Linked DNA regions of Homo sapiens. The protein of the gene in region 1 purifies or fractionates together with the protein of each later gene. This does not show direct contact. Each region holds a gene or a part of one and is shown on either strand. Other genes may lie near its edges.

What was found. The genes of interacting proteins can lie anywhere in the genome.
Region 2: the proteins of CDKAL1 (region 1) and CIAO2B purify together in Homo sapiens (affinity purification with mass spectrometry; 3 studies listed by BioGRID and IntAct, with this or other methods). This does not show direct contact.
Region 3: the proteins of CDKAL1 (region 1) and MMS19 purify together in Homo sapiens (affinity purification with mass spectrometry; 5 studies listed by BioGRID and IntAct, with this or other methods). This does not show direct contact.

The regions. Positions count from the first base shown.
Region 1 is NC_000006.12:20,530,389-20,537,465, reverse strand, and holds the start of CDKAL1 (threonylcarbamoyladenosine tRNA methylthiotransferase), read right to left. Parts: upstream 3,010-7,077; 5' UTR 2,892-3,009; intron 2,886-2,891; exon of another isoform or gene 2,267-2,885; intron 2,116-2,266; 5' UTR 2,072-2,115; intron 1-2,071. UniProt on the Homo sapiens protein: Catalyzes the methylthiolation of N6-threonylcarbamoyladenosine (t(6)A), leading to the formation of 2-methylthio-N6-threonylcarbamoyladenosine (ms(2)t(6)A) at position 37 in tRNAs that read codons beginning with adenine.
Region 2 is NC_000016.10:66,931,528-66,938,525, forward strand, and holds CIAO2B (cytosolic iron-sulfur assembly component 2B), read right to left. Parts: upstream 2,876-6,998; 5' UTR 2,838-2,875; coding exon 2,696-2,837; exon of another isoform or gene 2,540-2,695; coding exon 2,460-2,539; intron 2,213-2,459; coding exon 2,087-2,212; intron 1,299-2,086; coding exon 1,253-1,298; intron 774-1,252; coding exon 676-773; 3' UTR 538-675; downstream 1-537. Other genes in the region: CES2 (cocaine esterase isoform 1 precursor), read left to right, coding at 4,109-4,184, 6,510-6,714.
Region 3 is NC_000010.11:97,457,787-97,460,422, forward strand, and holds the end of MMS19 (MMS19 nucleotide excision repair protein homolog), read right to left. Parts: intron 2,447-2,636; coding exon 2,260-2,446; intron 1,956-2,259; coding exon 1,873-1,955; intron 1,741-1,872; coding exon 1,576-1,740; intron 1,497-1,575; coding exon 1,437-1,496; intron 1,115-1,436; coding exon 1,014-1,114; intron 934-1,013; coding exon 906-933; 3' UTR 538-905; downstream 1-537. UniProt on the Homo sapiens protein: Key component of the cytosolic iron-sulfur protein assembly (CIA) complex, a multiprotein complex that mediates the incorporation of iron-sulfur cluster into apoproteins specifically involved in DNA metabolism and genomic integrity.

The sequences.
Region 1 (7,077 bases):
CCCAGCTAATTTTGTATTTTTAGTAGAGACGGGGTTTCACCATGTTGGTCAGGCTGGTCTTGAACTCCCAACCTCAGGTGATCCACCTGCCTTGGCCTCCCAAAGTGCTGGGATTACAGGCGTGAGCCACTGCACCCAGCGGGAAGCTTTTCATCATATCAAATCTCCAGGTTCCATTCTGAATTAGAATCTCCAAGAGTAGAACTGAAGTATGTGAACATAGAAACTGTCCAGGTAATTCCACTATAGATCCCTAATTAAGAACCACGATTCCACAGTAATGGTTCTCAATCTTCAACACTCATTCTATTCACCTGAAGAGCTTTTGAAAATTCCCAACTAAGCTTGCAGTGAGCCGAGATCACGCCACTGCACTCCAGCCTGGGCGACAGAGCGAGACTCTGTCTCAAAACAAAAACAAAAACAAAAGAAAAAAAAGAAAATTCCCAACTAAGCCCCAAGATAGCTGAATGAATCTCTGAGAATGGAGCCTGGGCATCAATATCTTTTAAAAACTTTCCAGTCATTCTCATGTGTGTACAGCCACAGTTGCAAAGCAATGTCCAGTGGTTTTCAAAGTGTAGTTTCCACATCAGCTGGAGTAGCATCATGGGGAACTTGTTAGAAATGAACATTTTTTCTTTTTCAGTTTTTTTGTAAAAACAAGGTCTCGCTTTGTTGTCCAGGCTGGTCTCAAACTCCTCCCATCTTGGCCCCTAAAGTATGGGATTACAGGCATGAGCCACCATGCCCAGCCAGAAATGAAAATTCTTGAACTCCACTCCAGACATACTAAATCAGATATTTTGAGTAAAACCTAGCAATATTTAACAGGCCCTCTAGGTGATTTTGATCTGAATTAAAGTTTGATAATCACTGTCCCAGAATTATTCTTTCATAAAAACCACCTAGAATGTATGTCAAATATACATAACCTAGACAATTCAAGGGGGAAAGCGTAGTTTTTTTTTCAACAAATGACACTGGGATAACTGGATAGCAACATGTAAAAAATAAAGTTGGAGCCCTATTTCACATTTCACATCATATACAAAAATTAACCGAAAATGGATCATAGACCTAAATTTAGGAGCTAACATTATGAAACTCTTAGAAAAAAACATAAGCACAAATCTTTATGATGTTAGAGTAGGCCCTTCTTTCTTAGCTAAGAAATGAAAAGCACAAGCAACAAAAGGAAAAACAGATTAGATGAAGAAGATACAGAAATGGGCCAGGTGCAGAGGCTCATGCCTATAATCCCAACACTGGGAAGCCAAGGTGGCAGGATCACTTCAGGCCAGGAGTACAAGGCCAGAGCCTAGGCAACACGGACCCTATCGCTACAAAAAAAAAAAAAAAAGTAAAATTTAGCCGGGCATGGTGGCATGCACCTGTAGTCCCAGCTACTTGGGAGGCTGAAGTGGGATCACTTGAGACCAGGTGGTCAAGGCTGCAGTGAGCCGTAATCGAGCCACTGCACTCTGGCCTGGGTGGCATAGGGAAGCCGTGTCTCAAAAACACACACATACAAATGGCTGATAAGCACATGAAAAGATGTCAACATCATGAGCCATCAGGGAAATGGAAATCCAAACCACAATAATACACCACTTCATACCCATTAGGATGGGTAGAATCAAAAAGACAAATAACTGTTGACAGGCATGTGGATTACATCACCCAGAGGGGAAGAAAAAGAGAACAGAGGTAGGAGAAGGTACAAGACCACGACTTGAGAGACTCCAAATTTAACTGCCAGATAAAGGAAAATCAGCTTATAATGGATTCCAAGAAGCAGCCACCAGACAAGGAAAAAAATCCATGGGCCATGGAAGGCAAATGAAAAGGGCATCTCAAAAAAGTGGACATGGTCAATGCTGGTGAATGAAAATGAAAGGTTAAGTAAAATAAATGAAAATATCTCTTCGATTTAATGCTATGTAAAGCACAATGTTTCCATAACATGATAGTGGCAAATAGCTAAAACATTAGGCTACCTCTCTGCATTTTCTAACATGCAGAAATACGCACAGCACTCAAACATAAAAGGTTTAAAATAAATCAGTACCTTAATTATCTGCAATTAGTCTAAAGTCCTCTTGAAAGATGAGTCTGGAAAATAAAAATTGATTAGGAAAAGTAAGCACCCAAAAAGTTCACAAAACCACTGTAAGGATTCTTTACTTAAAAGGAATCAGACTCCATAAAAGACTGCTTTATACAGCAGGATTAATGATGCTCCATACTACTTGTAACTTCTTACTGATTACAACAGGTGTGCTGACATCTGCCGTGACGGTGATCCAGTGTCTGGCTTTAGTAATAAATGTTGTATTCAGCACCGCAACACGTCTGCATAGTGCGAGTAACCAACCACTACAAAACAGGATTAAGTCAATAAGGTAGATAGACATCCAGATCACGTTCCATCCGAAAGATAACTGTCGTCCCGAGATTCAGAAAAAGGTTTTATGAGCAAAGAAGAACGAAAAGTGAAAAAGCAAGACACCTGCTTTTCTCAATAACTTCTGCTTAAATTCTTAACATACTGATCTGGGAAAGCTATATAACTGCGAAAGCCTTGTCACATCTACAAATTCACTAAGGTATAAAGTGGGAGAACAAATGAAGTTAAACCTGACAATAAGGAACGAGGTGCCTAAAATACTCCTAACTGGAGAGCGGCACCTGAGGCCAACGACCCTATCCTCGCTCCTGGAAGCCCCATCTGCCTCCCAATTCCCCCATCCCAGCTGGCAAATCCCCTTTTAACTGCGAAACAAATTTGCAAACAGCCCAAGAAAAACTGAAACTGGAGAAACAAGGCTTGGCCATAAAAGGAGCTGTGGCCACACTCTGCCCCACATGGACCCATCGGCCACCCTTACCCAGAAGTCGGGAAGTAAAAACCAGTCCAAAGTGAGAAAATCAACCCGCCACTCTCCGGAAGCTGCACAGACTTTAGATGGAGAGCGCCATGACACATACGTCCCGCCACGTTTATTTGCGCATGCTCAGCGACGGTGGCCCGAAGAGATCAAATTACATCATTGCTGAAAGCGCTAGTTCTGGTTTAACTTAGTTTAGGAATGACTACGCTTCAAGTTCCTTTGATTCCAAGAACTAAAATAACAACCCTGAGTCCTCGGGTTCCTAGAAATGCTTAATAGCCAACTTCTCCTAAGCTTTTATGTGTTAGACACTGTGCTAAGTACTTTGCATAAATATTATTCACTATTTATTTATTATTATTATTATTCCCAGTTTACAAAAGAGGACACTGGAAGTTTAAGGACTTAATCTAAGTTACTCTACTAGTCGTGCTGCGCTCTGGGCTGGATCCGATGCTGTCTGACTCCCAAAGAACTTGCTCTTTTCACTGCATTTTACTAGCCTCCTCAATCATTTGTGAAAAGAGGTCTCTTCTTTAATATTAAAAAAACAGGAAGGAAAGGATAAAGGTCAGTTGGTAGGTTTCACTTAATATACATCATTGAGCACCACACAAGTGTTTTTGTTTTTTGTTTTGGAAAACTTAGATGGCAGTTTAGCAGACACCTATGGAAAGAAAATACTTTTATGGAGTACGGATTCTCACCCGCTTTCTCTACATATGTTATCTCACTTTACTATTCGTTACCCAAGACACTGTATTTGACCATGTGTTTACCAGAAGAATATCTTTACTTGAAAAAGTAAAGGTAATAGGAGGCAATAGGCCATGAAGAAGGGTCAGAAATCGTGAGTTTTATGCCTGACTTAGGGTTTCATAGTGATTTGGGGCAATTACTTTGTTTTGCAAATGCCTTTCCTAGTACAATTTCATCTAATTAAAATGCCATCCATCTACTCAAGAGGCTGATGTGGGAGGATCACTTGAGCTCAGAAGTTTGAAAACAGCCTGGGCAACACAGTGAGACCCAGTCTCTAAAATAGATTTAAAAAAAAAAAAAAAAACCACCCTTTTCTCTGTTTATCCATATCCATAAAATAATCTAAACTGTGCCCTGGGGTCCACTGTTGTCTTTACCCACCTAAATTAAAATTGTGTATTTATGTTGCCCTACTTTTTTTTTTTTTTTTTTTTTTTTTTTAGATAGGGTCTTCTTCTGTCACCCAGGCTGGAGTACAGTGTTACCATCACAGCTCACTGCAACCTCTCCCTCCTAGCCTCAAGAGATTCTCATGCCTTAGCCTCCCAAGTAGCTGGGACTACAGGTGCACACCACCATACCCATCTAATTCCATCTCTTTCACTAGACCAAAAGTAGGCCCTGGGTTATCTTCTTGGTTGTAATCGCACTACCTAGCACATAACCTTGTGCCTATGTTTATAGCTTCTCAATAAACATATGTTGAATGAATGAATGAATGAATGAATGACTCCACCCCTTTTCCCCCAAGATCTAGTTGAGTTCAGTAAAAGATATTTTACTGAGTATGTACCCCATGACCACAAGCACTGTGATAGATGCTAGAGCTAAAAAGAAAGAAAAAAAGTACTGCCTATTGCAATTGCAGGCTATTTTGAAAAAATTCATTTCAGTAGAGAATAGCAATCACTATGAAAGATGAATGCACAGGAACACAAAGGTGAAGTAAGGGAAATGGATGAAGGCATTCCAAGCTGGAGAGTCAGCCAGAGCAAAAGCAAGGAGGCCTGAAATGATGAATTATTCCACAGTGTAAAAGCAAAGAGAGTGAAGCTGGTGATGGGAGAAGTCTACCAGAGAAAGGGAAGCACAGGGACTAGATCAAGGTGAACCTTGTGTATTCAAAGGCATTAGACTTAATCCTGGATGTATGTAGTAGGCAACATGAATGTGTTCGAGCAGATTATTCTCTCAGGACAATGGGTTTGAGGACGATATTTCAGACATGAAGAAATAGTAAAAGCCTAAATTGAGTTGTTGGCTGGGAGGAATGGGAAGGAAGGACAGATTTAAACAAATTGAGGAGGTAACAGCAGCAAGACTTGGTGATTGATAGGTACGAAAAAAGAGGAAGAAAGGATGTTTTCAAGTTTTGGCTACAAAAACTAACTAACAGGTGAAACCTCTCTCTTTAAGCACCTTTAGTCTAAATCCTTTGAAGTCAGTAACCCTACCTCTAGGAATTTATCTTACAGAAATATACATAATGACCTATGTTCCAGAGTATTTTTTGAAGCATTGCTTACAATGACCTATGTTCCAGAGTATTTTTTGAAGCATTGCTTACAATGACCTATGTTCCAGAGTATTTTTTTAAGCATTGCTTACAATAGCAAAAGACTGGAAACCCTCTCCGGCTCCTCCTCAATAGAGTATTGGTTAAATATATTTATAGTATCTGTACAACCTTTGAAAAGCAACCAGTAAGTCCGGGTGCAGTGGATCACGCCTGTAATCCTAGCACTTTGGGAAGCCGAGGCGGGTGGATCGCCTGAGGCCAAGAGTTCAAGACCAGACTGACCAACATGGTGAAACCCTGTCTCTACTAAAAATACAAAATTAGCTGGGTGTGGTGGCATATGCCTGTAATCCCAGCTACTCAGGAGGCTGAGGCAGGAGAATCTCTTGAACCCAGGAGGTGGAGGTTGCAGTGAGCGGAGATTACACCATTGCACTCCAGCCTGGACAACAAGAGCGAAACTCCATCTCAAAAAGATTAAAAAAAAAAAAAAAAGGCCAGGCACGATGGCTTACGGCTGTAATCCCAGCACTTTGGAAGGCTAAGGTGGGCGGATCACGAGGTCAGGAGATCAAGACCATACTGGCTAACATGGTAAAACGCTGTCTCTACTAAAAATACAAAAAATTAGCCAGGCATGGTGGCATGAGCCTGTAGTCCCAACTACTCGGGAGGCTGAGGCAGGAGAATCGCTTGAACCTGGAAGGCGGAGATTGCAGTGAGCTGAGATCGCGCCACTGCACTCCAGCCTGGGCAACACAGTGAGACTCCGTCTCAAAGAAAAAAAAAAATAATGCTTTGTTTCTTAAATTAGAGTTAAGCTTCATAAATATACACCATCCTATTTTGTTCCTGTTTTTTCAGCCAACAATATAACACTAAATGCTTTATAAATATTTGGTAATAAGTAAACAAACCAATTGGTGTATACCAAGAACATTAAAAATGCAAGTAAATCTATAAAATAATAGTAAAGCTAAGATTTTTTCAAACACTTATAAATGTGTGCCAATAACCACCCATAAGTAACCCTATAAATGAGGAGTGCTATTATTATCTTGTTATCTCTTTTAACAGAGAAGAAACCTAAAGCTTAGGCAGTCTGACTTCAGTTGTTTTAACAACTCTATATGAATACTTCAGAAGAAAGCAACAATAGTGCAAAATTTCAAATAGAGAAAAAGCATTGGAGAGAAAAAACAAAAGAGTGATCAAGGAAAAGTGGAATAAAATCTGTTTGCCTGGACCGGGCACAGTGGCTCATGCCTGTAATCCCAGCACTTTAGGGGGCCGAGACAGGTGGATCACGAGGTCACAAATTCAAGACCAGCCTGGCCAAGATGGTGAAATCCCGTCTCTACTAAAAATACAAAACTTAGCCGGGCGCGGTGGCAGGCACCTGTAGTCCCAGGTACTCGGGAGGCTGAGGCAGGAGAATCGCTTGAACCTGGAAGGTGGAGGTTGCAGTAAGCCGAGATCGCGCCACTGCACTCCAGCCTGGGTGACACAGTGAGACTCCATCTCAAAAAAAAAAAAAAAATCTGTTTGCCTTAAATATTTTATGTTGGCCTTCACAGTAAAAATTGAAGAGAAAATATGGACAAGAAAGAAGTTACACAATTCTTACCCTCTCAGTGACTAATCAATAAAGAATAAAATATGAAAATTATAAAAATCTGGGGCCAGGCACGGTGGCTCATGCCTGTAATCCTAGCACTTTGGGAGGCACAGGCAGTTGTTTCACTTGAGCCCAAGAGTTTGAGACCAGCCTGGGCAACATGACCAGACCCTGTCTCTACAAAACAAACAAAAAAGTAGCCGGACATGGTGGTTCCAGCTACTCGGGAGGCTGAGGTGGGAGAATCACTTGAGCTCAGAAGGTCCAGTTTGCAGTGAGCCGAA
Region 2 (6,998 bases), on another chromosome or scaffold:
CAAGCTACTTGGGAGGCCAAGGCTGGAGGATTGCTTGAACCCAGGAGTTGGAGGCTGCAGTGAGCTACAATCTTGCCACTGCACCTGGGCCTGGGCAACAGGGTAAGACCTTGTCTCAAAAACAAAACAAAAACAACTATGATGACACATTAGGGAAATCCAGATATGCCTGGGTATTAGATGGTGTTGAGGAACTGTTCATTTTCTGATCAGATAAAAGTATTGTGGCTATACAGGCTTATATTGACTATAGGAGCTGCAGTACTTCAAAGTGAAGAGTCAAGTCTCTGCAGCTTACTTACTGATATTTATATATGCACACATAAATATGGCCAGTGTTGCAATATGTCAACAACTGTTGACTCTACTGGTGGTGGTGAGCATACAGGCACATTCGTACACTACTCTTTCCATTTTGATTTTATTTTACGAAAAGTTGCAAGTACACCACCCTTTAGAGGCACTTACTACCACCATCCCCCCCTCAAACTCCAAATGACTCCACCAAGATGAAAGACACCAAGGCATGCTGGGAACTGAATATAAATTAACTTTATTACAAAAAGCAAAATGTTAGTTTCTCATTGTGAGTGATTCAAGAAAACAACGGTAACAGCCCTGGCAGGAGCTGGGACCAGGATACCAGTATGCAGGCTGAGGGGTCAAAGGCCAGGCTCAGGAGCGGGCTGACAGGCACTGATTCACAACCTCCAAGAGGTGGGTGTTCTCCAGGGCAGCTGCCACCCGCTCCTTATCTGCAAGTTGCTTGTTCACTAGGTGGGAAGAAGGGTGTGGGGAAGGCAGAGTCAAAGCTAGGCTCTGGCCAGAGTGCTAGCCAGCCCTACCTCTGAACCTCTATATAGGATATGTCCCCCGCAGCAACAGAGCCCTCCTGTCACCTCCTTCCCAGGACCCCACATATTGATCAGGCTACTTCAACCACCTGAGCCCACCTAATCTGCCTTCTTAGGATCCCTCCCCCTGGCTGCCTCCTGCGCTGCTGAAGCCTGACACACTCTGGTCCTGTATATTTGGTGAGAGGGGATTTGGGAGAAGAGGACATGGTAAGCAAAGGAGAGTCTTCTCAGGCCAGCTTCGGTCTAGGCTATAACCCATACTGAGGAGTCTCTGGCAATTTCACTCACACAGTTACCCATCTCCAGTCTTGCCCATAGACTCCTGTGCAAGGGGGAAGCCTCAGACTGCTTAGGGGGTGCCCGGGCCAACACCCTCACCACCAGTCCACACTTACCTGCATGCTCTGAGGCATGGGTCCCCGGAGTAATGTGCACGTCCATCTGGGAGGGAGATAACCAGGGCCTGAACACCCACCCACCGACCCACACTTTTCCCTGCAGCCCCCAGACCCTCAGGCACCATCTCCAGCTGATCCTTCCTCCTAATCATGCCTTTGGACTCTGGCCCTTCCGTTACACCCCAAACCCATCCACAGGTATTCCAATTCTTTTTTTTTTTCCAAGACTGAGTCTTGCTCTGTTGCCCAGGCTGGAGTGCAGCAGCGCAATCTCGGCTCACTGCAACCTCTGTCTCCCAGGTTCAATTTGATTCTCCTTCCTCAGCCACCCGTGTAGCTGGGACCACAGGCACACACCACCACGCCCCACTAATTTTTGTATTTTTAGTAGAGATGAGATTTCACCATGTTGGCCAGGCTGGTCTCCAACTCCTAACCTCAGATGATCCACCCGCCTCAGCCTCCCAAAGTGCTGGGATTACAGGCGTGAGCCACCGCGCCCGGCCCTAGCTATTCCAATTCTATCCAAAGAACTGGCCCACTACTGTTGATTTAAAGGCCTGCCTGTGCCCCACCCCTGGTCCAAACCCATCTGCCGCTCCCTACTGCCCTTCCTGCCACACTCTTCAATACTTTTCTCCACTTTCCAGCTCAGATCTTTATTCTTGTCACATCGACTTGGAAAGCTTCCTCCCAGTTTCCTCTCTGCTAATGGGGATCCTTCCAGGCCCCACTCTGATGTCCTATCCATGTTCATGCTCTCCCAGTCCCCATCCTCAGCAGTAGACCCTCAATGCCTGGTCTCACTCCCGGGGCTCAGCTCCAACTGACCTTGAAACGCTGAGGAAGGGAGCGCAGAAGCTTGACCTTGATGGACAGACCAATAAGGGTGGCCATGCTGCAGTGCGGAATGGTTGGTGTGAAAGCCACAGCCACTGTACTCTCGGGGTCGCTAACCTGGTTGTGGAGGAGAGATGTCAAGAGTCAACCACCCTCAGCCCAAGGTCCCTCTTCTTAGTTTGTTGTTTTGGGCAAATCATCCAACTTCTATGGGCCTCAGTTTCAACACCCATAAAATAGGCACAACAATCTCCCTCCCCAAAGATACCCTTCGGTGTTCGTGAGCATAGAGCACGCCAGCTCCTGCTGCACAGAAACCTTTCTGACTCTCTGGAACAACTCGCTCCCCTCGGAAGTGACTCACCTGAACCCGCACCTGCTCTACTACGTTCAACTCCTCTAGCGTCAGTGGATGCTCCGGGTCATTGATGGAGCGAATCAGATGTGGGAAGTGAAGGAAAAGGGACTCTGCGCCCTTGCCCACTTAGAACCCTCTGCCAGGAACGCCCTGCTGGGATGCGGCTCCACCAGCTGCTCGATATCACTGCTCCCCCCACCGCAAGCCCCCGGAACCCGCCCGCGCCCAGCAGCGGCGGATATCGAAGATCTCGCGTGCGTCGATGCTGTCGGGAACCTGCTCGTCCTCCTCGCCTGCCGTCACAGGCCGCTCCCCAGAGCGCTGGTAGATGAGGGGGTTGGCATTCTCCAGGAGGCCGCCGCCGACCCCGCCGCCGCCTACCATCGCGGAACCACCACCGCTGATCCTAGCAGGCGTGCGCTTCCGCTCCAACCCGCGCACTTCCGGAGAACGGGAAGGGGGCGTGGCGTGGCGACGGAGTCGCGCGAGGGACACGCCGCGTTGTGGGTTCTCGGCCTGAGGTGCGAGAGAAGCGGTGACCGCGGCCCTGGCTGCTCGGACCCGGGAACATGATGGTCGCTGGAGCAGAAGGCGCTGAGAAGGGACCACGGCGGCGCTGGGTCGTGCGAGCCAGTAGCGGGCTGAAACGTAGAGGCCAGAACCAGGTCTCAGGGGGCACTAAAGGCGGTCGGAGGTAATCCCCACACCGCTTCCTCCTGGAAGTCAGGCTGGCCGGGAGCTCCCGTATCCAGGACGGTTGGTCGCCTCTGGCCTGGCAGGGATCCTAGTGTCTCGGGACCTCCCGGTGACGCGCCTGCCTCCCCTGCTGCACCATAGGCCCGGGAGTACGGCGTCCCCACAGCTTGGACCGGCAGGGGCTCGTGAAATGTTTGTCAAGTGGATAAATGACCATGGCCGTGGTCTCCGCGGGAGGTGAGGAAACTGAAAGCCACCGAGGAAAAGGGGGGCGCTCCTTAAGAAGTGCCGCGGTCACGTGTACGTTTCAAAAGAATGGCGTGACTGAGTAGGGAGGGGACCGCGGAGACCCTCAGACCCTGGACTGTAAGGAGATGAGGGGCCGTGAAGGGGAACCCAGGAAACTGAGTCCTGAAAGCAAGGAGGAACTTCCAGAATGAAGGGCGCCGACACTCCTTCCTGCCTTTGCTCAAGCGGTTCCTTCACCCCGATCAAGTTCCTTCCCATTTCTCCATCTGGGGGATCCTGAACGTGCACATCCTCAGAGAAGCCCTCCTGGGGTCTCCAATTCTAGTTTATTGCCCCCTCCTATCGATCCCCCAGCGCGCTCATCGGGCCTGTGGACAAGGACAGGTTTGAAGAGAGGATTCCCTGGATCGCGGAAGGGCTGCAGGAATGGCACAGCCCCTTCCGAGGATGCCAAAGGAGCCCGGGCAAAGGAAAGTGGCCGTGCCCGGGCCTGCCTACCACTAGATCCCCACCCACCTATGACTGCTCAGTCCCGCTCTCCTACCACACCCACCTTTCCCGGCCCAAGCCAGCGCACCCCGCTGACTCCCTGCCCAGTCCAAACTCCAAGGCTGGGCAAGGCACTGATCCACTGCTGGACAGACCCGGGGCAGCCTCTGGGTGAACAGCAGCGTGTCCGCCGGCAGCGAACCGAGACCAGCGAGCCGACCATGCGGCTGCACAGACTTCGTGCGCGGCTGAGCGCGGTGGCCTGTGGGCTTCTGCTGCTTCTTGTCCGGGGCCAGGGTGAGGCTCCCTCGGAGGGGCGACAGGGACCGGGCTCAGATCTGCCAAATGCTGCGGAGGCAGAACCTGACAGTGCGGGAGGGCAGGCGCCTGGGAGGTAGGAGCTGGTGGAGATGACAGCGTGGAACTCGTGAGCCCCACGCAACGCCTCCCCGCCGCCCAAGGTGGGCTCCTAGAAGCACAGAAAGGGTCGGGCTGGGGGACACCACGGCAAGGAACCAGCGGAGTACAGGGGCCCCAGGAGCGCCGGGACATGCCAGGCCGGGTAGGCAGCCTGGGGTCGGAGTGGGTGAGGGATTGGGGTGTGGGGATTCAGTCCATTTCCCTCTTATGATTGTGGCTGTAGCGGGTGCTGCCGGCCGGTAATAACAGTAATAGCTTCTGGCAGCATCTGGCTCTCAGTGTGTGGCGTCCTTGGCCAGGGGGGATGCCCTGAGCCCTCCAAAGGGGCCTCAGACAAGGATAGTGGTCCTTGGGGAACAGAAGCCCCCAGGCGCCAAATCCTAAAGCAGATCTAAGAGGCCACAGTGGCTGGGTGCGATTGGCTCACTCCTTTAATCCCACCACTTTAGAAGGCCAAGGGAGAGTATCGCTTGTGCCCAGGAGTTGGAGGCCAGCCTGGACAACATAGTGAGACTCGGAGTGTACAAAAAATTGAAAGAAATTAGTGGGCTGTGGTGGTCTGTGACCTGTAGTCCCAGCTACTTGGGAGGCTGAGGTGGGAGATCACTTTAGTAGGGGAGGTTGAGGCTGCAGTGAGCCTTCATCCCACTACTGCACTCCAGCCTGGGTGAAAAAGCAAAAATCTGTCTCCAGAAACAAGAACCAAAGAGCTCGTGGTGTCCCTCATGCCATTTACCTCATCCTGGGCAAGGGCACAACTTGGCTTCCAGGGCAAAGGTGAAGGCTCTGTGTGCCTGCCAGGCTTCTCCAGGCCCTTATCAGAAGCTGGGGGAGTGTTTCGGCCTTTGGTCCTCTCACCCGAAACTCTCCTAAGTGTATGATCTGTCTCTTCCAACCCTTCCCCAATTTAATTTGCGCAGGTGGAGTCCATACTCCCCCCGCCCCATGGTGCACTGCTGCAGGGCTTCCTCCCGTGCCTGCCCTTGACCACATTCTAGAGTTCACCAGGAGCCCAGCAGGAAGATCTGCCTGGCCTCACAGATGGCTACCTTTTAAAATATTTTGGGCCAGGCACAGTGGCTCACACCTGTTATCCCAGCACTTTGAGAGGCAGAGATGGGAGGATCACTTGAGGCTAGGAGTTAGAGACCAGCTTGGGCAACAAGACTTGTCTCTACCAAAAAAAAAAAAAAAAAAAGTCAAGCATGGTGGCAGACAGCTGTACTCCAAGCTACTCAGGAGGCTGTGGCGGGAGGATCTCAAGCCCAGGAGGTGGAGGCTGCAGTGAGCTGTTATCATATTACTGCATTCCAGCCTGGGCAACAGATGGCGACCTTGTCTGACAAATATATATGTATACAAAATTTTGGGTTGGACCCACATTCAGAAAAAATAATTGACAAGCCATAGGAGGGTACAGGTGATGTGTGCCATCCTCTTTTTACCCAACCAGTCCTGGCTTCTCCTCAGGGGCCATCAAAGTCCCCATGGCCCACACTGGAAACTGCTTGTTGACACCGCAGTACACACAGTGCCCAGCAGTTTACACAAGAATAGATGTGTGCACTTGTCCTTGATTTTCATCTAAACAGTCATAAACTCACCCACTTTCTGGAGCCAGGCTTTTCTACAGCTGGGACTACAGGCATGCACCACCACACCCCGCCAATTTATTTCCTGATTTTTTTGCAGAGACAGAGTCCCACTATGGTCCCCAGGCCAGTCACTGTGCTTTTTATATCCCAGCCACAGCCATACTTTTCTCTTGCACCTCTTTTCACCAACATCACTCATGGTTTGGATGATGCTTTCTTTACATGATTTCTTGCCACTTTGGACATGACATCCCTGAGGACAAGAAACTTGCCTGCCCAATTCCCACCATCATCCTACTGTCACATGACCTGGCACACAGTTGAAGGACACTCTAGTCCCATCAAGGGCATGTGACCCTTTGTTTGAAGGTCCTAGGGCTGAATGATGATGCCTGGCCCCAAGGAGCCTCAGCCTGGTGGGATGGAGACAGGCCCAGGAAGCCAGAGCGGGAAGGGAGTGTTACAGGCAGGAAGTTTGTAAAGCCCATGTTTACAGATCAGAGTCCCTTGAGCTAAGATGAGGATGGCAAGGAAGCAGCAATACCAACAGTTGGGAGGGCAGTCGATTGGTCAAACCCAACCGTGATGTCTGTCTCTCTGCCCACAGGCCAGGACTCAGCCAGTCCCATCCGGACCACACACACGGGGCAGGTGCTGGGGAGTCTTGTCCATGTGAAGGGCGCCAATGCCGGGGTCCAAACCTTCCTGGGAATTCCATTTGCCAAGCCACCTCTAGGTCCGCTGCGATTTGCACCCCCTGAGCCCCCTGAATCTTGGAGTGGTGTGAGGGATGGAACCACCCATCCGGCCATGTAAGCTCTCCAAGGGGTCCAGGGAACTCCAGGCCCTGGGGCAGGGGTGGGGGTGCTCTGAGCTCAGCTAGGCTGCAGTTATCATTTCATCTAAACCCCCACAGCCAGTTTTCCTTCTGAGTTTCGTGGATTCCCACGTGCATTTTTCCAATGAGCATGCTGAGGCTCAGGAGGGCAGAATAACTTCTCAGACTCCTGGATCAGGGCTTGGCATTCAGAAGACATTGGCTCCAGGTGCCGAAGGGAGGGGCAGACACACGTATCTCCCCAGATTCTGGTTATGC
Region 3 (2,636 bases), on another chromosome or scaffold:
TCTCGATGTCATGACCTTGTGATCCATCCGCCTCGGCCTCCCAAAGTGCTGGGATTACAAGCTTTACAGGCGTGAGCCACCGCGCCCGGCTCAAGTGATTCTTGTGTCTCAGCCTCCCAAGTAGCTGTGATTAAAGGCGTATGCCACCACACCTGGCTAATTTTTGTATTTTTAGTGGAGATGGGGTTTCACCATGTTGGCCAGTCTGGTCTTGAACTCCTGACCTCCACTGATCCATGCGCCTCGGCCTCCCAAAATGCTGGGATTACAGGCGTCAGCCACCATGCCCAGCTTAATTTTTTTTTTTTTTTAATTATTTGTAGAGATGGGTTCTTGCTATACTGCCAGGGCTAGTCTCAAACTCCTAGCCTCAAGTGATCCGCCTGCCTCAGCCTCCTGAAGTGTTGGGGTTACAGGCATGTGCTACTGTCCTGGTTACCCTGAAAAATTTTTGGCCAATCCCTGTCATTGTTATTCCAGTGATGCCTCTGGTTATATGAGGCATATGTGGGGTGGGGGAAATATCTGACAGCCCCATTACCAAAAGAAATCTTTATTCTTCAGCAGGTAGACAACATCTGCCAGCCCTGGTCCTCAGGGCCACACTCATATGCACTCACCCCTCAGCAGCATATCGCCCCTTTTCTGACATATAAATGCAAGAGACCCAGGACCCTAGATCTTTCTTCAAACGCAAGTGTCTCACACACACTTATTTTACAAATCCACTAGAAATATGGACTCTTATGTTCTTTGTACAGCCATGCAACAGAGGCCTAGCATTTGTGCTGTGTCTGTGGGAAAGGCAGTCAGAGACCAGTGGTTTCCCTGCTTTGGGGAAGATGGCTCAACAGTTAGTAATCCCAGGTTAGATTGTCAGAACAGTCTAGGCCAGGACTGAGGGCTCAGCTGCCAGGGCTCCCCAACAGAAACCTGTAGGCAAAAAGAAAGTTGGCAGCATTAGTGATGAGGCTCATCTTGGTCCCATCTCTCCCCACGACCTAGAAACTCACCACTCCCCTCTGGCTGACACTGCTTCCTTGCGCACCAGTCTCTTCTTGTCATCCAGGGGTTTGGCTAAGGCCCGAATCACCTGTGGTTTGTACGGCAGCAGCTGTGGAGTCAGAGGATATAATCAACCTTGCTCATCCAAGGCAACTGAAAGTACCGCTTTTTTGATTCTGTACAACTAATATTCTGAGGAAAGCAAAACATCTTTAGTGATTCCAAGGGATGTTAAGTGGCAGGATGGCCTTTCTGTTACCTTCTGGGCCCAAGGAAAAGAATCCTTGGGCCCAGAATTACAAGATCTGTACCTTGTAATTCAGATCTCAATTACACACCAGGGTGGCCAAGCCCACCTGACTAAGGCAAAAAGGTACTTATGTGTCTCTTGAGATGTTCCCAGGCCAGGGAAGGACACCTGAGGTACTTACCACAGGGGTGGGCAGGCGAGTGAGAGCATGCATGCACTGCAGTGCGGCGATCCGGACAGCCTGGAACACAACCACAAGGAGGTGAGAGCATGCCCAGGGAGAGATGCTGGTGCCTAAGAGTTGCTGGGGCTCAACGCACCATGGAAGGGCTAGAGCTGAGGTTCAGAAACTTGGTGACGAGGGTGTCCACGTGAAGACTCATGACTTGGGGTGCTTCCAGTAGAAGAGGCTGAAGGCAGCTGAGGGTGGAGAGCTGCACCACACAGTCAGGGCAGGACAGGGCCTCCAGCAGCAAGGAAAGAAGCTAAGGGGCAATGGGCAAGGTAGGGGATGGCCACATCATGAAGATCCTGGTTCTTGTTCCCTCCCCTTTCTAGCCCCATCTGGGGAAGAATAGCTTTGTCCTTTGCTTAGAAGCTCTGCCTGTGGGACTTACCGTGGGCAGCTCTGGCAAGAGTACAGGCTTGGGCAGCCTGTTAAGTACATGAGAAAGACCCTTCAAGTAGTTTGGCTTCACATCTGTAAAAAATGGAAAGGCTTAGGGGAGAAATTGGACTTAGATATATAGCTTGAGAAATCAATTCCAATCTGTGGTGAGGCTGAGACATCAGCCTACAAACGGGTGAAAGAGCCCTTCACGCTCAGAATAAGCAAGATACGCCCATGAAAGGAAGAAGTGGGACAAGAATCTAGAAGTTTAGTCTTCTAGGCACAGACCACAATATAGCTCTAAAGAAGCAAGCGGGCCCTAAATTATCTTAGGGAATGTGGCCAAGCAAAGGAGAGATGTGTATATGTGGGGACCTTCTTTCAGACTCCTCACCTTGGGGAGCAGCATGGAAGCCCTGGACCAAAGCAGGCACATTATCTGTGAAGAACCGCTGGCGGAACATGATCCGCACTTCGGCATGGCCAGCACGAGTCAGCACATCAGTGCAGTCAGACATGAGCAGAGAGAAGCCATCAGCTGCTGCTGGACCTAATTCTGGGTCACTCAGGAGGCCCATGAGCTGGAGAAAAAAGAGCCTTTGAGGTACATCAGGGAAGAAGAATCTTAAGTGCCAAAGATAAGGATGGGGCCGGGTGTGGTGGCTCATGCCTGTAATCCTAGCACTTTGGGAGGCCAAGGCAGGTGGACTGCTTGAGTCTAGGAGTCTGGGCAACATGGCCAAACCCAGTTCTTACAAAAAATACAAACAT